Homo sapiens: one gene and its partners. The protein of the gene in region 1 purifies or fractionates together with the protein of each later gene. This does not show direct contact. Each region holds a gene or a part of one and is shown in the gene's direction. Other genes may lie near its edges.

Evidence for each region.
Region 2: the proteins of LDLRAD4 (region 1) and HECW1 purify together in Homo sapiens (affinity purification with mass spectrometry; 4 studies listed by BioGRID and IntAct, with this or other methods). This does not show direct contact.
Region 3: the proteins of LDLRAD4 (region 1) and EPN1 purify together in Homo sapiens (affinity purification with mass spectrometry; 3 studies listed by BioGRID and IntAct, with this or other methods). This does not show direct contact.
Region 4: the proteins of LDLRAD4 (region 1) and DHX38 purify together in Homo sapiens (affinity purification with mass spectrometry; 3 studies listed by BioGRID and IntAct, with this or other methods). This does not show direct contact.
Region 5: the proteins of LDLRAD4 (region 1) and WWP1 purify together in Homo sapiens (affinity purification with mass spectrometry; 4 studies listed by BioGRID and IntAct, with this or other methods). This does not show direct contact.
Region 6: the proteins of LDLRAD4 (region 1) and STXBP4 purify together in Homo sapiens (affinity purification with mass spectrometry; 3 studies listed by BioGRID and IntAct, with this or other methods). This does not show direct contact.
Region 7: the proteins of LDLRAD4 (region 1) and ITCH purify together in Homo sapiens (affinity purification with mass spectrometry; 4 studies listed by BioGRID and IntAct, with this or other methods). This does not show direct contact.

What each region holds. Positions count from the first base shown.
Region 1 is NC_000018.10:13,225,260-13,228,759, forward strand, and holds part of LDLRAD4 (low-density lipoprotein receptor class A domain-containing protein 4 isoform alpha 1), read left to right. Parts: intron 1-3,500. UniProt on the Homo sapiens protein: Functions as a negative regulator of TGF-beta signaling and thereby probably plays a role in cell proliferation, differentiation, apoptosis, motility, extracellular matrix production and immunosuppression.
Region 2 is NC_000007.14:43,437,647-43,441,146, forward strand, and holds part of HECW1 (E3 ubiquitin-protein ligase HECW1), read left to right. Parts: intron 1-356; coding exon 357-499; intron 500-3,500. UniProt on the Homo sapiens protein: E3 ubiquitin-protein ligase that mediates ubiquitination and subsequent degradation of DVL1. Also targets the mutant SOD1 protein involved in familial amyotrophic lateral sclerosis (FALS).
Region 3 is NC_000019.10:55,681,726-55,685,225, forward strand, and holds part of EPN1 (epsin-1), read left to right. Parts: intron 1-3,500. UniProt on the Homo sapiens protein: Binds to membranes enriched in phosphatidylinositol 4,5-bisphosphate (PtdIns(4,5)P2). Modifies membrane curvature and facilitates the formation of clathrin-coated invaginations. Regulates receptor-mediated endocytosis.
Region 4 is NC_000016.10:72,103,847-72,107,346, forward strand, and holds part of DHX38 (pre-mRNA-splicing factor ATP-dependent RNA helicase PRP16), read left to right. Parts: intron 1-99; coding exon 100-285; intron 286-639; coding exon 640-780; intron 781-1,180; coding exon 1,181-1,291; intron 1,292-1,385; coding exon 1,386-1,502; intron 1,503-1,670; coding exon 1,671-1,778; intron 1,779-2,158; coding exon 2,159-2,271; intron 2,272-3,493; coding exon 3,494-3,500. UniProt on the Homo sapiens protein: Probable ATP-binding RNA helicase. Involved in pre-mRNA splicing as component of the spliceosome.
Region 5 is NC_000008.11:86,464,547-86,466,774, forward strand, and holds part of WWP1 (NEDD4-like E3 ubiquitin-protein ligase WWP1), read left to right. Parts: intron 1-2,228. UniProt on the Homo sapiens protein: E3 ubiquitin-protein ligase which accepts ubiquitin from an E2 ubiquitin-conjugating enzyme in the form of a thioester and then directly transfers the ubiquitin to targeted substrates.
Region 6 is NC_000017.11:55,076,765-55,080,264, forward strand, and holds part of STXBP4 (syntaxin-binding protein 4), read left to right. Parts: intron 1-1,313; coding exon 1,314-1,430; intron 1,431-1,921; coding exon 1,922-1,971; intron 1,972-3,500. UniProt on the Homo sapiens protein: Plays a role in the translocation of transport vesicles from the cytoplasm to the plasma membrane. Inhibits the translocation of SLC2A4 from intracellular vesicles to the plasma membrane by STX4A binding and preventing the interaction between STX4A and VAMP2.
Region 7 is NC_000020.11:34,506,273-34,509,272, forward strand, and holds part of ITCH (E3 ubiquitin-protein ligase Itchy homolog), read left to right. Parts: intron 1-1,422; coding exon 1,423-1,522; 3' UTR 1,523-3,000. UniProt on the Homo sapiens protein: Acts as an Acts as an E3 ubiquitin-protein ligase which accepts ubiquitin from an E2 ubiquitin-conjugating enzyme in the form of a thioester and then directly transfers the ubiquitin to targeted substrates.

The sequences.
Region 1 (3,500 bases):
TACCCAAGAGATGCACATATCATGGGCCTAGCAGGACAGTCAGCTCTTTGCAAACTGGTCCACGGTATCAGGCAGGAAAGGGTGTCCCTCACAGCTCTTGAGCCACCCCCAGCAGCTGGGATGGATGCTGACCCCTATGTAGATACTACCAGGTGTCCCACATGTTGCAGGGCATTTCTGAGCCTTTGTGGCATGGGGCTAGCCCGGCATGGGGCTGATTAAGTTACGGTTGAGGAGGTGAAGACCTCTAGAGAGACTGTCCTGGTCTGGGCCCTGTCCACTCTGTCAACAGCTCTCAGTAGCCACGCATTGTCATGACCCAAGGTGCAAGGCCTGTCTTGGGGTAGCTGCTCCTAGCAGCATCTGTGGGACAAATAACGTTTTCTTTTCCTGATACATGTGTACTGAAGAGAATTAGGAAATAGGGAAAGAAGGAAGAAAATAAAAATCACTGAAATTATCTATGATCTCACTGCTAGAGATGATTAGTAGGTTAGTAGATTCCAGGTTTATTAATTAATTATAAAGTCATTTATGTACTTTTTAGGAAGCTTAGCATTCTTTCATGAATATTTTTCATGTGATTTAAATATTCTCCAAAAATCCTACTTCTAGATTGTATAATATTCTATTCTATGGTTATATTGTTATTTTTTTAAAACCAGTTTTAGGACATTGAGGCTGTTACCGGTTTTCTCTGTTATAAATATGATTGCATTGAACGTCTTTAAACTTTTTTTTTAGAAATTTATTACATAACTTGATAATTTAAAAAAATGGAGATGGGGTCTTGCTCTGTTGTCCAGGCTGGAGTGCAGTGGTGTGATCTCGGCTCATTGCAACCGCCATTTCTCAGGCTTGTGGCATCCTCTGCCCTCAGCCTCCTAAGTATCTGGGACTACAGATGCTGCCATGCCTTGCTTTTTTTTTTTTTTTTTTTTTGTAGAGACCGGGTTTCGCCATGTTGCCCAGGCTGGTCTCAAATTCCCGGGCTGAAGCAATCTTCCCGCCTTGGCCTCCCAGGGTGCTAGGATTACAGGCGTGAGCCCCTGTGCTTGGCCTGAACATTTTTTAAAACATTGTTTGGGTAGATTCTTAAAAGGGAAATTGGGGGCTATAAGACTTTTAAGGGTCCTCCAAAAATATTGCCAGATGGGGCTTTCAGAATGGGAGAGGCAACTTAGATTCCCACAGAGAAGAGGGTGACTGCACCCTTGTCAATGCCGAATATTATTTAAAAAACCTTTGCAAATTTGGCAGTAAATGATATGGGCACATGACGTTTAAATTTTCTTTCCTATCTTTTTATTTTGAAAATCTGACTTTGTGTCATCTGGCTTATCGATGAAAAGAGTTTTGCTGTTTGCTAGAATTTTGTTAAGGCCAAACATCATAATGTCAGTGGATGATCTCAGTAGGTGGGGTAAGACCTTTGTGCTTTTTAAAATTTGAATAAAATAAAATAAAATAAAATAAAATAAAATAAAATAAAATAAAATAGAATTAAATTCTACTCAGGTAGGTTCAGGGCAATAAACATTCTAATAACATGTCTTTTAAACAAATTATAGGATACGATGGGCATAGACTGCTCTTGGTCTTCCCCCAGCCTCCTCATCCTCCCTCTTTAGGGGTAGCCTTGAACTTGCAATGGAGAATGAGGGCCAGGAGGGGGTGGAGTCAGCACCTGGCTGTCTGGATAGCCCCACCATACCTTGTTCAGTCGCTTCTCTTCATTTCAAATGATCCCTATTGGACCTCACACTCTTTGCTAGTCTTGCCCCTAAGGATGCAGACAGAAAATTCATGATGGGCAGACAGAAAATTCATGATCCTCCATACTCCATTCTTGTGTCGTCTGTGGAGGACCTCCACATCCTCTGCAAATGTGCTAAAGTTTTCTGCTTTCCTCCAAGGCATCAGCCCTTCCAGAGTTGCAACAACTATGAACAGTGCCTGACCTCTTAAGCTGTTGCTCCTAAAGCTTGAGAGAGATGAAAAAATCACTTTACTAGGTGGTGATGAACTAATTAAAGACAGTCTTTCATTGAGGGGTTGGAAGCAGCTGGAATGGAGGGTGCTTACCGTGCTGGAGGGAGCAAGATGGCACCACTTTCTCTAGGGCTGGTCATGATCGGTGTGGTTTTGTTCACAGGCACCTGAGCACATCAGGTGGGGAGACCCTCATGTACTGTGCAAGGTGCTCACCTGCTCTTTGGTGTATGCTGGGGGTGCACTTCCACCTGGCATTGCCTGGTGGACAGTGAGTGGGTCCCACAGGACCTGGTGGGCCCATGTATTAGTCCGTTCTCATGCTGCTATGAAGAAATACCCGAGACTGGGTAATTTATAAAGGAAAGAGGTTTAATTGACTCACAGTTCCACGTGGCTGAGGAGGCCTTGGGACACTTACAGTCATGGCGGAAGTGGAAGCAAACATGTCCTACTTCACTTGGCAGCAAGAGAGTGAAGTGCAGAGTGAAGGAAGGAAAAGCCCTTTATAAAACCATCAGATCTCGTGAGAACTCACTATCATGAGAACAGCACGGGGGAACCACTCTCATGATCTATTCCCTTCCCATGAGGTCCCTCCCCCAACACATGGGGATTACAATTTGGATTACAATTCAAGGTGAGATTTGAGTGGGGACACAGAGCCTGAACGTATCAGCACAGTTCTGTGTTTTGTACCAAAGCTTTCAAGGAGGTGCCTAGGTGCGTGAGCCCAGGTACTGCAGGTGCAGACGGCAGAAGCTCAGCTGGTGATGCTGTGCCCCATCTCCCTGGGTTGAGACTGCAGACTGGGTCCTTCTCAGCTCTGCTTGGCCTGCCATCAGCACCACACTCTGTCCCAGGTGCACACCTGCCCTCACCTGTGGCAGTGCTGAGGCCTTGGAGATGGATTCCAAAAGGCTGGAGATGGTATGAGGCCTGCGGAGTGGAGATGGAGTGTGCTGAAGGCTGCTAATGGGGTGGCAGTCCTCCAGTGGTCTGGCCGGTGGGGTCCCTCAGTGTCTTTTGGGGAGTACGCCTCTGCCACAGTCCTTGGCGGTTCTCCATTTTCCTCAGTGAGGTGGTGGCTCTGATGTCACTGTGAGGGTGCTTGCCATTGACCCAGAGGGCTTTGGGTGCCTGACAAATCCACCTTGTGTTTGTTACTGGCTGAGGTGTGCAGAGCTGACCGATTTCTGTCTGATTTGACCTTGCTGTTTGGCTTGCTCCTGCAACACAGTCCCTGCTTTCCTAGTGGGGACGGGAGGCCTTCTGGATACAATGTGTGCAGGACTTGAGGAAATGTCGGCAGTTGGTTGGCTCGGTTGAACATTTGTTTTTCTGCTACTTTGGCTATGAAGATAAATCTTGACCCCTAGGCCAGGCACAAGGCTGGAGTTTGAGACCAGCCTGGGCAGCATAGTAAGACCCTATCTCTACAAAAAAAATGTTAAAAAATTGTGCCCCTAAAACACTTAGCTTTCCTTCTATTGGGTTTGAATATGACA
Region 2 (3,500 bases), on another chromosome or scaffold:
TTTATTTAAAGTACATTTTCTTAATTACAGGTGAGTTTGTGCTTGTTCTTTCTTAAAGTATGATAATACCTTCAATCAAGTATGATGAGGCTTTGGTGGCATTCTTTCTCTTTAAAGCATGCTGATTTTACTGCTTGAATCTCAAAGAATAAGCCTATTTTTAAGCCCTGCAGAAGCATCTTGTCGCTGCCCCTCATTTACTGAATAAACAGGTTCACAACATTTCTGAGACCCTTTATATATAGGTATATTATAGCTAGGATGTTTTACAGTGACAGCATCAAGGCAGATGGACTGGGAATTGACCAGCCCTCCAACCTCTCAGTTAATTGATGTGACATATTCTTTCATTGCAGCAATTCAGTTTTGTGTCCTTGCCCACTGACGTGCTGGAAATTGAGGTGAAGGACAAGTTTGCCAAGAGCCGCCCCATCATCAAGCGCTTCTTGGGAAAGCTGTCGATGCCCGTTCAAAGACTCCTGGAGAGACACGCCATAGGGTAAACCTGTGACTGAGATCTTACTATCACTAGGTTCCCACCAACAGGTCGTGCCCAAAGGTGGCCTGTAGGCTGCAATAGTATAGTCTCACAGAGAGTCAAAATGGTATCATTATATTTCCTTTGTTTTTCCTACTAATTATGTTGCCTGAGCCAACATAAGTGTTTGTTATATTAAACAAACCCATCCCTTTTCACTTGATGTGTAACACTGGTTACTTACCCAAGAGAGTAAAAAATCCTATTAAAAATATTAAACAGTATTAAAAGAAGCCCTCAATGGGGCATTTTTCTGTACAGGTAGAAACTAAAGTTTGTTTTACTATGAAGAATATTATTTCATTCATATGCCAGTCTGGTATGTAAGATTTAATCATATGTGACATTTCCATAACAAGATGGAATACTGGGTAACTACTGTAGAGTTTCTTACTTAGAAGACACTAGTATCTGCAGATGCTAGATAACATGGATAAGAATTTGAAAGCATGATTCTCATGGAATGACAGCAATTAAGATGCTCACAGAATTCAATTGTATATGAGAATGGGTTTCTGTTTTGTCTCTTTTACATTCATGTCCACTCATGGTTCTCATTAAAGTGGACTATGACCAGATAACAGCCCTATGTATAATATGTATTTCTTTAGGTAACAGGGACTACATTTGAAAACACTAAATAAAGCTTTCTATTGATAAACATATACTTATATACAATGTAACCCTTACAAAGATAGCAAAAGAATGAGAAAAAAATATGCAGAATTTCCAAGTGTCTTAATTTAAAGTTCTTTGGATTATCAGAAGGACTTTGGAATCACGGATAATTATCATAAAGACATTTATTATTAATTGGAACCTTATGGTGTGTAGGCAGCAGGGTGCACAGAGACCTGCCACTAACTCTCCAGCCAAAGGGAGCTGAGTTTATGGAGCTGCAGTCACGTGTCACATGCAGTGTTTGCACTTGCCATTCATGGTTGTGAGGATTAAACAGACAAAAAGTGTACATAAAGAACCTAGCACGGCCACTGGCACGTAGTAGGAACACAAAAGAAAATGGTATTCCTTGTGATCTTTTTTATTTCATTTAGTCCTCATAATGCTTCTGTGACAGCATTATCACCATTCCTGCACGAGGAAACAAGGCTTCAAAAGGATCAATAATTATGTAAACCCAAGGCTTGTGGGTGGCAGAGATCCGGCCGGAATTCAGACTCACACCTGTGTCTCTCCAAAGTCCGAGGGCCATCCCCACACAACAGGCTTCTCTCAGGGTTCCTAGGACTGATTCTGTAGTTTATTGTGGGCCATGCTTTTCATTTCTCTCCTTCTCTGCCCTACTGGCTGCTCTCACAGCTGTTAGCACCTCTGCCAGGGGGTGGGCTGGAGAACAAAAACAGGGGCTGTGTGGGATTCTTTCTACCCCAGCACCCAGTGCACTGCCGCCCAGCATGCATTAGATAGATACCAGTTCGTACGTAAGGAACAGAACTTCTCTCTCCAGCTCGCTGCAGCCGCAGAGCCCCTCTGCCCTCCCATGCTGAGTTCTCTCCTAAGTCCAAGCTGCCGGCTCCTATCTTCTTAGCACTGTCCCGCCCTCCAAGCCTCCCACTGTGGAAAGGCACATCCCCAGCTGAAAGCAAGTACCTGAGGTGGAAAAGGGTGTCCCCGACCAAAAGAAGGTTAGCTATGATTTTCCCAGTGTTCTTGCCACCCAGGGAAATGGAGAGCACAGATCGAGTGTGATTGAGCTTACACCTCTCCAAGAGGCAACAACAGCAAGCCATGGAGGCGTTTTTCCTCCCACCCTCTTTGATGGGATGATAGACTGCCCCCTGGTGGCGGCGCAGAGCAGCTCCTCCTCCAAAGCCTTCTGCTTCCACAGCCCCTGGGGGCCACTTCTGCAGTGCTGCCTCCTCCGGAGGTGTCCCACCGTGGTTAGGAGCAGAGTGTTGGGGTGATGGCCATGGAAGCAGTGGCCATGCAGCCTGAGCCATGGCAGAACCCCAGAGTGCACCCACAACAAAAGTGAATCCACTTTGCACCGCAGCTTCCCTCTGCCCTCAGCACATGCTCTCCCCATAAAGCCCCCTGCATCCGTGGTTTCTGAAACGTTTGGCTCCACCTGTACTGGCTGCCTCCCTGCCCTGAGATATTTGCACCTTTCCCCCCTGGGCACACATGCACTCTCATTTCCAATCCTCCTTCGATTCCTTGGCCTGTAAAATCCCAGGCTTCTGTTGGCTGTCTGCCTGTAACTCTAACCATCTCACCTTCGCATTGAAGTGTCACTGGCTGTCTTGAACCATTATTTAGTGGTCCTACCTTATGCCCCCAGCTGGACATAAGCTATTTAAAGGCAGGGGCGATGTATGACATGCTTTGTATCAACTGCAGCACCTTTCACATGGCAGGGGCTCAAAAAATATTTGTTAAGTGGGTGAAAAGCAAAAAAAAGAAAAGCCCTGAAAGTAAATGCAAAGCATAATAAATGTAATTTTTGTGCCACTGTCTGATTGTCTTTAGGCCTCCCCTGATTTCAATTAAGTTTTGGGTTCGGGATGTCTTTGTTATGGTCATAATAGACCTACTTCATAATATTGACCAAAGGCTCTTTCTAAACAGACAAAATACTGAAGCTCATCCTATTTTTTTCTGCACATAATGCTTTACTTAATGGACTTCTGAGGAACTCCAAACACTAAATCATGGCTTATCAAAGAACAATTTTTAAGTCGGGGCTTGTTGGGATATAGGTTGTCTCATAATGCCAGTGTTTTCTAGAAAGAAACATTAAAACACTATCAGCCAGTGATTTATCTTTTTATTTTCATGTCACAAACTAATAAATGGAATAAATACAGAGTCATCTGAGTAACAACTGGTTTGGGGCTATGTGTTTGTTATTACTGGGTACCCTGGGTTTGTTAACTCCTGAATATCCAAAGGTGGTCACTCTTCCTATTTAGGCCCAGGTAAGGGGCAATTTACTCTGCTG
Region 3 (3,500 bases), on another chromosome or scaffold:
TCATTTTATGCAGTTGCCCACTGCTTTTTGGTTGTTTTCAGAAAAGCAAAGGAGAAATAATGACTTATTTTGCAAACTTTTTTTTTTTTTAACTTTTTTAGAGACAAAGTGTTGCTCTGTAGCCCAGGCTGGAATCCAGCAGTACAGTCATAGCTCACTGAGCCTTGACCTCCTGGGCTCCAAGCATGGTTGAGGAATAGCTGGGACCACAGGCACACACCACCATGCCCGGCTAATTTTAAGATATTTTAAATTTTTTTGTAGAGATGGCAGTCTCACTGTGTTGCCCAGGCTGGTCTTGAACTCCTGGGCTCAAGCGATCCTCTTGCCTTGGCTTCCCAAAGGGCTGGGATTATAGTCATGAGCCACTACACCTGGCCCACTTGCTCACTTCTAAAATAAGGTTTTAAATTTTTCATTAAGAAGTTGTATACTAAGCACATCATGAATGTATAACACAGCTGTTACGCATGTGGACACCTGTGTAGCCTTCACCTAGAGGGAGGTAGAGGATGCATTCAGCCTTCCAGGTTTCCTCAGGAGACCTGTCTCCCACAGCACCGTGTCTGATTTCTGTCTGCCAAGACTGTTCTTGAGCTTTATATATGTGGAGTCACACGCGTGGTCTTTTGTGTCTGGCTTCTTTTGCTCACCATCACCATCAGGTCAGCAAGGTTGACCGTGCTGTTGCATAAAGCAGTTGTTCATTTATTTTGAGAAAGTCTCACTGTTGCCCAGGCTGGAGTGCGTTGACATGTTCTCGGCTCACTGTAGCCTCTGCCTCCCGGGCTTAAGCAATCCTCCTGCCACAGCCTCCCAAGTAGCAGGGATGACACGCATGTGCCACCACGCCTAGCTAATTTTTTGTTATTTTATTTATTTATTTTTTTAGAGCTGGGGTTTTGCCATGTCACCCACGATGGTCTTGAACTCCTGGACTCAAGCGATCCACCGACTTTAGCCTCTCAAAGCACTGGGGTTACAGGATTTTGCCACTGCACCCGATTTTATATATTTATTTAATTATTGTTTCTTATTTATTTATTTATGAGACGGAGTCTCGCTGTGTTGCCCAGGCTGGAGTGCAGTGGCACCACCTCGGCTCACTGCAACTTCTGCCTCCCAGGTTCAAGCAATTCTCCTGCCTTAGCCTCCCGAGTAGCTGGGATTACAGGTACTTGCCACCACGCCTGGCTAATTTTTGTATTTTTAGTAGAGATGGGGTTTCACCATATTGGCCAGGCTGGTCTCGAACTTCTGACCTCGTGATCCGCCCGCCTTGGCCTCCCAAAGTGCTGGGATTACAGGTGTGAGCCACCGCGCCCAGCCTGTTTTTTGTTTTTTCTTGAAATGGAGTTTCGCTCTTGTTGCCCAAGCTGGAGTGCAGTGGTGCTATCTTGGCTCACTGCAACCTCTGCCTCCCAAGATCAAGCGATTCTCCTGCCTCAGCCTCCTGAGTAGCTGGGATTACAGGCGCATGCCACAATGCCTGGCTAATTTTTTGTATTTTTAGTAGAGATGGTGTTTCACCATGTTGGCCAGGCTGGTCTCAAACTCCTGACCTTGTGATCTGCCCGCCTTGGCCTCTCAAAATGGTAAGATTATAGGTGGGAGCCACCATGCCCGGCCTTATTTATTTATTTTTAAATGGAGTCTCACTCTGTCTCCCAGGCTGGAGTACAGTGGCGTGCTCTTGGCTCACTATCACCTCTGCCTCCCTGATCCACGGGATCCTCCCACCTCAGCCTCCTGAGTAGCTGGGATTACAGGTGTGCACCGCCACACCTGGCCAGTTGTTTTGTGTTTTTAGTAGAAACAGGTTTCATCATGTTGGCCAGGCTGGTCTCGAACCCCTGACCTCGGGTGGTCCACCTGCCTCAGCCTCCCATAGTGCCGGGATTATAGGCGTGAGCCACCACACCTGGCCTCATTTCTCTTTTATTTCAGTGTATGTGGTAGTCCCGCTGTGTGAGCGTGCCATAGTTGATGTATGCATTTCACTGTGCGTGGGTATTCGCACTATTTCCTGCTTCACAATCTTTTTAGCTGCGATACCAAAGTCCAGAGAGCTCTGGAAACGAAAGTGTTTCATGATCCGTTCGGCACAAAGTCTGACCCAGACTGAAGTGAGGTCGTTCACATGGTGTCTGTTGGTCCCACAGTAGTGTGGCTGTTGGCACGACTCTGCCCAGCGCGTTCTCTTATGTGTTGTATGTGCGTTATTTTCCTGGTCTGAACTCAGGAAAATTCTGAATTCCAAAACACAAGGGCCCCAGGAGTTGTGGACCTGGGACTGCCTCTTGGCTTGGGGTGTGATCAGGCATAGCAATGGCTTACCTGCTTTCCTTTCTTTCGTGTAAATACCTTGAGGGCCGGTTAAAGACTAATCTCTGATTACACTGTAAATACTGTTAACACACCTTTGAAAGGCCTTGCCAGAGCTAGGTCCAGCTGCCTCAGAGGGTGAGGAGATATGAATGGCCCTGGCATCTTTCCTGGCAGATTTCTCCTTGGTTCAGACGGAGCTTAGCTGTGATAGCTGACTCTTCCCCTAGGAGCCCTGGGTGGGTTTCTGTGGCTCTGTGAAGGCCCTGGAATCCCCTGCAGAATCAAAGTTGTGCCTTTTTTTGAGGTCAGTGACCAAGACACCCCCTGCAGAGCCTTAAGGGGGCCATGACTCCTCAAGCCCAGGACTTGAGCCTGAGCTAGGGAGAGCCTCAGAGACCTTGGTCCCCCCGCCCCCACTATTAATTTCAACTTGTTGAAAGGGAGTTTGTTTTCGTATTATAAAATACAAACATACCAAAGGGTGCAGATTGAACGATAATGTTCCCTCCGCCCTGTCCTTTTGCTCCTGGTGGTGTGGAACCTGGGTGCCCCTCCCAAGAGAGCCCGGGCCTACACAGGCCCTTGCGTGGATCTCTTCCCTTCTTGCAGAGGTGATAAACTACTGCTCCAGGCTGTTAGTACCAGCGTGAGGTTTTACAGTCAGAAATACACATTTCAAACTAGTACTAAGACCCCCTTCATTGTGATTTAACTAATGTGGTTTTCTTGGCCATGTTACTTTAGATTTTAGTTGTAAAGAAATAGACAGGGCTCCAGGATGCCAGGCGATGCCCATGGCGGCTGTGGTGCCTGTAGCTGCCATTTCCTCTTTTATTTGGATTGAGATGGAGCTCCTACACTGTGCAGCCCCCTTCATATCGCACAGTTCAGTGGCCTTCGGCCCATTCACAGTGCTGGGCGACCACCTCTGTCCAGCTCCAGAACGTCTTCATTGCCCCAGAAGGAAAACCCATAGCCTTCAGGTGGTCCCTCTCCATCCCTCCCTCCACCCCTGGCAACCCACAATCCACTCCGTCTCTCTGGATTTGCCCATTCTGGATGATTCACGTCGATGGAACCGTAGGCTGTGTGGCGTTCTGTGCTGGCGTCTGTCGCTGAGCGCAGTACCTCCGCGGCTGGTCCCCGTCACAGCGTGGGTCTGTGTTCATTCC
Region 4 (3,500 bases), on another chromosome or scaffold:
TGCTAAAGGGTGTGATCTGCTAAGACTCGGACCCCAGTACGGGGTGTGCTGGTGGTGAGCCGGTGGCCAGGGCATCTGAGCCATCTCTCTGACCTCCAGGTGGGCTATGCCATCCGCTTTGAAGACTGCACTTCAGAGAACACCTTGATCAAATACATGACTGACGGGATCCTGCTCCGAGAGTCCCTCCGGGAAGCCGACCTGGATCACTACAGTGCCATCATCATGGACGAGGCCCACGAGCGCTCCCTCAACACTGACGTGCTCTTTGGGCTGCTCCGGGAGGTGAGGGCTGTGTGGTTTGGTCTCTCTGCGCATGGGGTGTTGACCAGTGCACCACCAGTAGCTAGTGGGTTGCTCCAGGTGGGCTGAGGGGGTCTCTGGTAGGCCAGAGGTTCCTGAGGCCTCTGGTTGCAGTTCAGACTCGGGTTGTAGTTCATGCTGTTCTTGCTCTGCTGAGGGTGGCTTGGGGTTTTCTGGGCAGTGGCTCCATTGCTTCAGTCTTCATGATTGGTAAGAATTGAATAGGCCCATTTGTCAGCTTTGGCTTGTGTTTCCTCGGGGGTGGTGCTGATGGGACTGGGGGACAGGAGCCAAGGGTCCCCACCATGGGGGCCTCCGAGCCGCCTCTTCTCTCAGGTAGTGGCTCGGCGCTCAGACCTGAAGCTCATCGTCACATCAGCCACGATGGATGCGGAGAAGTTTGCTGCCTTTTTTGGGAATGTCCCCATCTTCCACATCCCTGGCCGTACCTTCCCTGTTGACATCCTCTTCAGCAAGGTATTGAGGCCACCATGTTACGAACTGACCCTTCCATGCCACGCACTTCTCTGATGCGAAGCCGGCTGGAGGGTGGAGGGTGGGTAGGGGACTGGGTTGGAGAAGATTTCCTGGGGACCATGGGGCAAATGGGGCAGCCTGCAGCTCTGGGACTCGGGGACAAAGGACTCTGCTCTGGGTGAGGTTTTGTTTCATTATTTCTTTGAGGCTGAAGTACAGGGCCCAGGGAGGCACTGTGCCCTCTTGTAGAGGCCTCGCAGTCAGGCCCATGTGGAGGTGTGGTGGCCCTCAAAGTCCATGGCTCCATTCCAGAGCAGTGCCTGGGCCACTGGGCTCCCAGGAGATGCCCGGCCTGCGCTTCTAGTACCTCCCTCTGACTGTGTCCCCACTGCTGTTGCAGACCCCACAGGAGGATTACGTGGAGGCTGCAGTGAAGCAGTCCTTGCAGGTGCACCTGTCGGGGGCCCCTGGAGACATCCTTATCTTCATGCCTGGCCAAGAGGACATTGAGGTGCGTGCCTTGGTCACGACTGTGATGAGCGGGTGTGTCTTGCATATGAGAGGTTAGGGTTCCAGTGTCTCACAGCTCCTCCCTGGGCTCTCAGGTGACCTCAGACCAGATTGTGGAGCATCTGGAGGAACTGGAGAACGCGCCTGCCCTGGCTGTGCTGCCCATCTACTCTCAGCTGCCTTCTGACCTCCAGGCCAAAATCTTCCAGAAGGTGTGTCAGCAGGAATGTCCAGGAGTGGCTCTTGGAGTTCTCTAAAGGAAGCGAGAGGGGATGTGACTGTCCTGGCAGGGGGTGGGCTAGGAGGTAGGCTTTTCCCCCTCGCGGAGCCTTTCCTGTCTCGAGGGACTCATTTTTCCCTTCCTGTATGTCCTGCTCTAGGCTCCAGATGGCGTTCGGAAGTGCATCGTTGCCACCAATATTGCCGAGACGTCTCTCACTGTTGACGGCATCATGTTTGTTATCGATTCTGGTTATTGCAAATTAAAGGTAAGAGAAGACATGGGAGGCAAGGCCTGGGTGTTCACCAGAAGCTAACTTAGCTGCGGGGTGGGAAGCCAGGGCCTCGCTCCTGGCCCTGGGATGTGGGGAGCGCGTGGAAGTGGTGGTGGTGGTGGGAGGCTCACATTGACTCACTGTGCTTGGTTTGTTTAACCCTTGTAATACTCGATGAGGTAGATAATTTAACAGTAGAGCTCAGAGAGCTGGTGTTTGTGGGGAAGACTTCTTCAGGTGTTCATGAGAACATTTCTAGAGCCTCCTGGCTCTTCCTCTGCCATGTGTAGCAACCAGGGCTTGCCTTTGTCTCAGGCCTACTTCCACTTTCCCCTCACTCTGTCCTTCGTCAGCTCTTTGCCGTCCCCTCCTAGGTCTTCAACCCCAGGATTGGCATGGATGCTCTGCAGATCTATCCCATTAGCCAGGCCAATGCCAACCAGCGGTCAGGGCGAGCCGGCAGGACGGGCCCAGGTCAGTGTTTCAGGTAGGAGCCCTGTGCTAGCCTGCTTTCTGGGGCAGCGCTGGGGTTGCTGAGCGTGGAGCCCGGGCGGGGGCGGGCAGGATGCTGGCTCTAGAGCTGGTCCCCAAGGCTGGAAGCTGCTGGCAGGGCTGCCACTTGTTAGTCCTTTCATCCTATGCTACTGAGTGGAAGGAAGGAGTGGCTTTCCAGGGATTTCAGAGGTCTGAGGCCAACCTACGTGGATGTAGGTACACATGCAGGTAATTACAGCCTGCCTCCCTTCAGAGGGTAGGTCTGGACAGATGATGCCATTGGTTCTTTTTATTTCTATTGTTCTCTTTCCCCATTTTCTTTCTTTCTTTTTTCCAATTAGAGACAGGGTCTTGCTCTGTCACCCCAGGCTGGAGTGTGGTGGTGCAATCACAGCTCACTGCAGCCTTGATCTCCTGCACTCAAGTGAACCTCCCACCTCAGACTCCCAAGGGGCTGAGATTGCAGGCAGGCACCACCACACCTGGCTAATTTGTTCATATTTTGTAGAGATGGGGTCTTGCTATGTTGCCCAGGCTGGTATTGTGAACTCCTGGCTTCAAGCGATTCTTCTGTCTTGGCCTCCCAAACTGTTGGCATTATAGGTGTGAGCCACTCTGCCTGGCTCTCTTCCCCTTTTTTGTTCCAATTAAAAAAATTAATGTATTCACTATAGAGCGTTAGTGAATATAGAAAAATATCAAGAAAATAAAACCCAGCCATGATTCTAGTCCCAGGCCCATTGGTTCTAGAAATGAAACAGATGGCTGGGTGTGGTGGCTCATGCCTGTAATCCTGGCACTTTGGGAGGCCGAGGCGGGCCGATCACAAGGTCAGGAGTTTGAGACCACCATGGCCAATATGGTGAAACCCCATCTCTACTAAAAATACAAAAATCAGCTGGGCGTGGTGGCGGATGCCTGTAGTCCCAGCTACTCGGGAGGCTGAGGCAGGAGAATCGCTTAAATCCGGGAGGCAGAGGTTGGGCAACAGAGTGAGACTCTGTCTAAAAAAAAAAGAAATGAAACATGTAAGAGGCTCCAGAAGAAGGGCTAAATTGGCAGATTGGAGTTTTGAATAGGTGGAAGTCAGTGATTCACTGAAGTAGTGGGTGGGGAGAAGAAATGAGAATTTCCTCCCTCCCTGTGGGATTTCATCTGTACTGGCTGCTGTGGGGTTTCCTTGTGGTGAGAAGATGGGGTCTTCTCCCCGGCAGGCTCTAC
Region 5 (2,228 bases), on another chromosome or scaffold:
GCTGTGTTACCTATGTTAGAGTGCAGTGGCACAGACACAACTCACTGCAGCCTCAACCTCCTGGGTTCAAGCAATCCTCCTGCCATAGCCTCCTCAGTAGCTGGGACCACCAGTGCACGCCACTATGCCTGGCTAATTTTTTAATTTTTTGTAGGGACAAAGTTTTGCTGTGTTGTCCCAGGTGGGTCTTAAACTCTGGGCTCAAGCTGTCCTGCCTTGGCCTCTGAAAGTGCTGGGATTATAGGCATGAGCCACTGCTCCCAGCCAAGGTTGACAGTATTTTTAAGAGTGAAAAGGAGTCCTGTGACCAAAATTTGAAGACCTCTGCCTTCAATAAAAGTGATAGATCCATATGTATACACACATGCGCGCGCGTGTGTGTGTGTATTGAGAGAGAGATTTTTGAGTCAAAGGGAGAATTAAAATAGATTTCAAATTTTGTGAAAGGAAAGTAATTACCACCCACTGATTTCTGTTTTCTCAAAGTATAAGGAGAAGTCACTGGCTAAGAGTGAAGAAAGGAAAAACTTTTGAGAGAAAGAAGGAATTGGGAGAATTGTTAGAGAATAGGCAAGTATTCATTAGAGGAACACGGCTAAGATTGCTAGGCAAAATTGGATTGCTCACTTGGATTAGAGCATGAAACAAGTTGACAGCAAAGAGCATAAGCTTCCTTTCCCCACCACAGCCCCCTCCCCACCCATAGCAACTCGAAAGCAGCAAAAGTTTTTGAAGAGTGGCATAAACTGGTATGTCTTTTTAGCAAAAAGTAAAAAAGAAACAAAACAAATAGACCCAAAGAATTCTCTGATGGTCCAGGTAAGAGATGATGGGGAAGCATATACAAAGGGATGTAGTGGCAGTAGAAATGATGAGGAGGAGCCTGGGCAACATGACAAAACTTCGTCTCTACAAAAAAAAATACAAAAGTTAGCTGGCCATGGTGGCATGCGCCTGTACTCCCAGCCACTCCAGGGACTGAGGTGGGAGGAGGGAGGATTGCTTCAGCCTGGGAGGTCGAGGTCGCAGTGAGCCGAGACAGTAGCCTAGGCGACACAGCCAGACCCTGTCTCCAAATAAATAATCAGGAGAAAAAATGGAATATTTGGTAGATAGAATGACAGAATTTGGCAAAGGCTATATGTGAAAGATGTAAGAGAACAGAAAGTGACTGGTTGTCTTGTATAGGAAGTATTAAAAAATAATTTTTTTTTCTGACCTTGTTATCATACTCTACCTTGAAGTATAAAGGGGAGGGCAGTATATGGTCTGCTTAGTTGCTGCTATTAATATCTTTAACTTCATTTAAAATACAAAGAATACAGTCTTAGAACAGCACTGTTTTATTTAGATGCCTTGTTTCAAAGGCTCTTTCCTGACTCTGACATGGGAGGGTCAAGGGCACATGGAAAGTGGTGACAGTGGTAAGAAGGCACCTGGATAATCTCTAGAAACCTTCCACATGGGAAAATGAAGGTACAGAAGGGTTCTGACTTACTCAGGGCTATCTCACTAGTCACTGCTACTGTAGGGACCAAAACCCTGAACACCCGAATCCTAATCTAGCTACTCAGTGCTGTACCTCACAAAACGAAATGTTATTCCACCTTTGTAAACTGAAAAATAATAGTTATTTTAAGCATTTTTTAGTATTTTAAAATTTTTATCAGTTAATACCAGAATGGAATTGAGTATGGCAAGATTGAAAAAGTGTCATTTTAGAAGAGTTTATATATGTGGTTAGATTATTTGAAAAGACAAAGAAACATATATATTTGTTAATTGACTGTCTCTACCCCAGAATGTAAATTCCATGAAGACAGGGATTTTAGTTTTCTTCACTGTATCACTAGCTTATCAGTTATATAAAAAATTCTCGGTAAATGACTGATGAATGAGTGACTGAGTGGATGAAAGAAATGGACTCTTATCCTAAGAGAAGTTAAGAGGACTCATGACACATGTAACAGGAATAGTAAAAAGAAAATGGATTTTTTTTTTTTTTTAAATTTGTCTTTATCCATATTGCTACACTTATTATTTGTAATTCCATTTTCCTCTTGGAGATGTTAAAATAGTTTTTATATGTAAGTCTTAAATTTAGATTACTCTAAATACTTCTGGCAAAATTTTAACATATATAGTATACATATATCCATTCAGCATTTCTATGTGCTTTGAAAAGTATTCTATTAGATTTTTTTCATTTTATTGAAAACATCTGATTT
Region 6 (3,500 bases), on another chromosome or scaffold:
AATTCAGATTGGATGTGTGCTATAGCTTCTTCTGGCTGTTTTCTCTTTACCTTTTCTCCCCATTTGTATTTCAATTTTTGTCTTTCTGTTCCATTATGAGAAGTTTCTTTACCTCTGTTGTCAAGTTCACCCATTCTCTTTATAATTGTATCTAACTGGATGTCAAATCTATAAATAAAGTTTCTAATTTAGTTATGTTACATTTTTATTTTTGAGATGTATTTTTTATGTTATCTGGATCTATTTCAATAGTTTCTTGTGTATTATACTTTCAATTCCCTCTTATTTTTAAAAACATATTAAACATAATTGCCTTATATTTTGTATCTGCTCACTTAAATATCTGCTGTCTTTATAGATCTGATACTGTACTTTATTTCCTTCAGTTAGCTTTCATTCATAGAGCTTATTTTCTCATATGTTTAGTGATTTTTGTTTGTGTCTGTGAGATCATGTTCTATCAATGCATTATAAGTGGGAATTCTTTGAGCTCTGAGTTTTAGAAATATCTCTCCAGAGTTTTGAGTTTGCTTCTGCTAGCCTGGGACCAATTTAAAGTAAAATTTCAGCATATGGCTTTTTAGGCCACACAGATAATGTAAATTCTGGCCCCAAACCTGTGTGAATGGGGACTTTTGGTTAGGAATTATTCAGGAGAAACTTTTTTACTCAAGTCACCTGAGCCAACATCAAAACACTGTTTACCTCTGTGAAGTTTACTTCTTCCCAGTTCACCCATTGAGTTTCTTCTGTTTTCCATTTGTGACTGTTGAAACCCCAAACTGTAGGCCACCAGGGATCAGCATATACCCTCCGAACAAATAATGCTTCAGTGCTCTCTTACCCCAGTGGGCTCACTTGGCATCGCTGTTGCATGTCTCCATGGAATTCCTTTACTTCCTTGCTAGCTTTGTCTTACATCGTGTGTGTGTGTGTGTGTGTGTGTGTGTGTGTGTGTGTGTGTGTATCCAGCATTTTTAGTTATGTTAAATTAGTAGAGGTTTCTGTCAGCATCTGGTAAGACACATTGCAAAAACAAAACAAAACAAAACCATAAACTAATTTAAATGTATTTTACTATAAGAATCAATAAACTCATATACAACTTATCTCATAAAACTTGCAGTATCTCTGTGCAAATTAACTTTTAAATATGCAGTTAGTTACATGCCCCCCAAAATCAAAACATATGTACAGTAAGAGAAAAAGATAATTTGGTAATATTGAATATTAGTTCATAAAAACTGAAAATAGGGACCAGTAATGTAAAACTGAAGAAATGTGTAAATGCTCCTTTTGATATCTCTGTGCAGGAAAGTGTTCAGGATTTAAAAAAGAGAATCATGGTACTCGACTGCCAATTACGAAAATCAGAAATGGCTCGAAAAACTTTTGAGGCATCCACTGAAAAGCTTCTTCATTTTGTAGAGGTAAGTTTTTCTGTTCTATTACATTCATCTTTAAAAAATATATAGGCAACTGGCATATAGATAAATGTTACTGTATTTGGTACCTAGTGAAACATTCTCTAGTCTCAAAGCAGCAATGCTGGCTTATGGTCAGATTTAGAACTGCATACATGATGAAAAGACTGGCTAACATTTTATAGATTGTTTAGAGAAATAATTGAGACAAGGTGATGGGATTCCAAGTATATACTATTTTAATGAATACTTTACCAAAAATCCTGATAATGCATAAACATTATTTGATAACTACTTACCTTATAAAGAAATGTTTTCATAGCTGTTATATTTCTGAGTAAAACTGCATGTTAGTTCAATTGTTTGCACCCCCGCTACATAATAGAAGCATCAGTTTAATCCGTGGACAGAGGAGGTTATAAATATTAATGAAGAAAAGATATTTTTTAAAAACTGTCAAACTGATATATCTCCTTCACCATCTTGTTTGTTGCTAGGCTATTCAAGAAGTATTTTCTGATAATTCTACTCCTTTATCAAATTTAAGGTAAGAAAATTTAAGTGCTTTTTGCAGAATATGGGTAGTGATTAAATTCTTCATCTGGTCATTGTGACTCAAATACTAAAAATCTCTTAAATAGTCCTAAGGTGCTACATAACTCCCATTGGATGCCATCATATGGAAATAGATGCAAGGACATATTGTTTTGTGTCCCATCTCTGTTAAAGAAATTCCTGGAGGTATTTAGTCAATCATTGTAACCTTGTAATCTAAAATTATGGTAGAAACCACCTATCCTGTCTTTATCAAAAATTCTATAAAGATGAGATTAACTTAAAATTCTGTAATTGTCTTGCGTATGAATCAAAGTTACTGGTCACAGGTTCACTACTAAAAGTGTCTCAACCCAGCAGGTTAGTTGTTCTGGCAAACAGAATTTTGGAAAACATATTCATGCAATCATTTTCTTTCGTTTTCATCTTTCAGTAGCTATAAATAAAAGAAATATATTTGGAGAATATACCTCGATTGTCTCATTATTCATAATATGTTTTGGATTTAAAGTTTCTTACTAGAAGCTGGAAACATACTAATCAAATTTATTTATTTCAAACCACAAGTTTATGGTCATTTTGATACATGATGAAAGACATTTACAAAAGAAAGATTCTTGTTTATGCATTTCCAAAGTAATTTTTTTCTGCTCTCATAATAGCTGCCACTAGTCCTAGATACATCTTCTACTTCTAGCAATATACGCTTGCAGAAACAGGAAGACTCAATGAGGTTGGGTGTGATGGTGCATACCTGTAATCCCAGTATTTTGGGAGGCTGAGGCAGGGGGATCACTTGAGCCCAGGAGTTTGAGACAAGGAACATAGTGGCACACAGTGGGACCCTATCTCTACAAAAAAAAAAAAAAAAAGAAATAGCCAGATGGGATGGTGCATTCCTATATTCCCAGCTACTTGGGAGGTTGAGGCAGGAGGATTGCTGGAGCCCAGGAGCTCTAGGAGATTGAGGCTGCAATGAGCTGTGATCATACCACTGCCCTCCAGCCTGGATAACATAGTGATGCCCTGTCTCAAAAAGTAAATAAATACTCTACCCTTTACTGTGAAAACAGCAGCTTAATAAGTGAAGATATTTTTGGTGTCCACATAGCATTTTTTAATTTAGAAGAATATTTATAATTCACTTCTAAACTCAAGTAATGTTTTACTTCTTATGATGAAGGAACCTGACATAACTTCTTACTCTCCTTGCTGCTTATGATACAAGAAAACTCTGTGAATTTCATGATTATTACTCTCAGTAAGGATCTTAAAATAATCAGTAATCACATTTATTTCTTTATGGGCTAAGTGTGTCACCCACCCTCAGCTTTCCAAGGTCTTAGTTTTACCTTGACTAATAATTCAAAAGTTTTGTTTTAAAAATTAAGGTTAAAATGACTATTTAAAAGCCAGAGCCTGCCCTTGCCTTAAACTGCTTCATGGAAAAAAAGACAACTTTAAATAGCTACATCACGCAACATTTCATGGTGTCTTAGTAAATTAAACACTAGTAAAAAC
Region 7 (3,000 bases), on another chromosome or scaffold:
AGGCTGGTCTCGACCTCTTGAGCTCAAGCAATACTCCTGCTTTGACCTCCCAAAGTGCTGGAATTACAGGCCATCATGCCAGACCTAAAACATTTTTCATCTTGTAAAATTGAAATGGTACCCATTAAAGCAGGGGTCCCCAACTCCTGGTCCCCAGCCTGTTAGGAACTGGGCTGCACAGCAGGAGGTAAGTGGAGGGTGAATGAGCATTACCTGCTGAGCTCCACCACTTGTCAGATCAGCAGAGGCATTAGATTCTCATAGGAGCAATAACTATTGTGAACTGTGCATGTGAGGGATCTAGATTGTGCATTCCTTACGAGAATCTAACCTGAGGTGGAACAGTTTCATCCTGAAACCATCCCCCTCTCCACTCCTGTCCATGGAAAAATTGTCTTCCACAAAACCATTGCCTGGTGCCAAAAAGGCTGGAGACTGCTGCTTTAAACAATGACTCCCCATGACTCCCTTTCCCCAGGTCCTGGCAAACATCATTCTACTACTGTTTCTATGATTCTTTAGTACTTCGTAAGTGTAGAATCGTACCTTATTTGTCCTTTCCTGGCTGGCTTATTTCACTTAGAATAATATCTTTAATTTTCATCCATGTTGTAGCATGTGTCAGCATTTCCTCCTTTTTAATGCTGAATAATATTTGATAGTCTGGATATACTACATTTTGTTTATACATTCATCTGTCCATGGACACTTAGATTATTTCCACCTTTTGGCTGTTTATGCTGCTATAAACATAGGTATACTGTGGTAGAATATAGATATATCTGTCCATGGCCCTGCTTTCAGTTGTTTTGGGTATATACCCAGAGGTGGAATTCCTTGATCATGTAGTAATTCTATTTTTAATTTTTTGGGGGAATCTCGCCATACTGTTTTCCATAGTGACTACACTGCGTTATATTCCTACCTGTAGTGCAGAGGGGCTCCAATTTCTCCACATCCTCACATCCTTTTCAACTCTTGTTTTCTTCTGTTTTTTTTTTTTTTTTTTTTTTTTTTGGTTGTTGTTGTTGTTGTTTTGGTGTTTTAAATAATAGCCATCCCAACAGGTGTGAAGTGGTATCTCATTGTGGTTTTTATTTGCATGGTAAAGGATGTTGAGCATTTTTTTAATGTGCTTATTGGTCATTTGTATGTCTTTGGAGAAATCTCTATCCTTTGTTCATTTTTAAATATTGTTGAGTTTTAAGTTTTTTATATATTTTGGATACCAGTCCTTTATCAGATATATGATTTACAAATATTTTTTCCCATTTTTGGGTTATTTCACTTTCTTGATGGTATCCTTTGAAGCACAGTAGTATATTTTTGTGCTTCTATAGTAGTGTATAAAGTAGTATACTACACTACTCATTTGATTCTTTGCATATTTCCTTTTCTCAAACTAACAATTCTTGCTTTTAGTTTTAATCGCCTGGACCTGCCACCATACAAGAGCTATGAGCAACTGAAGGAAAAGCTGTTGTTTGCCATAGAAGAAACAGAAGGATTTGGACAAGAGTAACTTCTGAGAACTTGCACCATGAATGGGCAAGAACTTATTTGCAATGTTTGTCCTTCTCTGCCTGTTGCACATCTTGTAAAATTGGACAATGGCTCTTTAGAGAGTTATCTGAGTGTAAGTAAATTAATGTTCTCATTTAGATTTATCTCCCAGTGATTTCTACTCAGCGTTTCCAGAAATCAGGTCTGCAAATGACTAGTCAGAACCTTGCTTAACATGAGATTTTAACACAACAATGAAATTTGCCTTGTCTTATTCCACTAGTTTATTCCTTTAACAACAATATTTTATGTGTGTCAAAAGTCTCACTTGGGAGTAGTGTTTTTTTCTTTTAGACATTCTGCAGACATGCAGGGAAGTCCTTTGGTAACTGCAATATACAAGATTTTCCTATTAAGCCTCTTGGTAAGAGGCATTTGTTAAAAGTGCAAGCTTACTCCTGCTTCTGGGGATGTGAGCAAAATTCGGGCTTGTGTTCTCCCTCTCATTTTAGTCTGACTTGACTATTGTTTTTCCTTTCTGGCGCATGAATCCATACATCATTCCTGGAAGTGAGGCAAGACTCTTGCATCTCTACAAAGTAGTTTTGTCAATTTGAATTCAGGGAAAAGTTGGTCACAGCCTGCAAATGACTTCATTTGGAAGTCTGATTGTTTCAGTTGCCTGACAAATACTACACTTTACAAACAATGTTAACACTGTGATTCCTTCATTGTTTTAAGAAGTTAACCTAGGGCCGGGCATGGTGGCTCATACCTGTAATCCTAGCACTCTGGGAGGCCGAGGCAGGAGGATCCCTTTAGCCCAGGAGTTAAAGACCAGCCTGGGCAACATAGGGAGACCCTGTCTTTTTTTTGGGCAGCGTGGTGGGGGATAAATAAATAAAAGGAAAAAAAACTTAGCCTAGAATTAGAATTAATTTAATTGAATTCATCTAAAGATGTCTCTGGTGATTTTTATATGTTCCGCTATATAATTGATGCTTTATAGTTTTATCATAATCCAACAACTTCAGTTATATTTAATTATTGTTAAGGAGTTTAAGACTAGAAAGACTAGAGTGCTTTCTAGTCCAAATAGAGGTCAGTGAAACAGCTTTTGACATCAGATTTTCATTTGAGAGGGAGAGCTGTGGTACTGGCTAAAAAGAAAGGAAGATAACATCCAGTAACCACAGGAATATATTCTCTGTGAATTAAAAGTCTTCAAAGTTATCATTTCTCTGACATATGTTGGAGTAGTCATTTCCATTCTTTACATTGTCATGAACTGGATTGATAACCCTCATCTGCAATATTTTCACCCCTAAAATTTTTAACAGGGTTTCCTTTTTTTCTCACGACTATTTAAGTTTAGATTGCTCCATTATTAACTGATTAATGCACTTTGAAGTTCTCTGGAATTAATTATTTTAACTTGGCCTAGCTTCGACTGTCAAGGTGGCTGTTATAAATTTGACTTCATTGGCAGTGGATGAA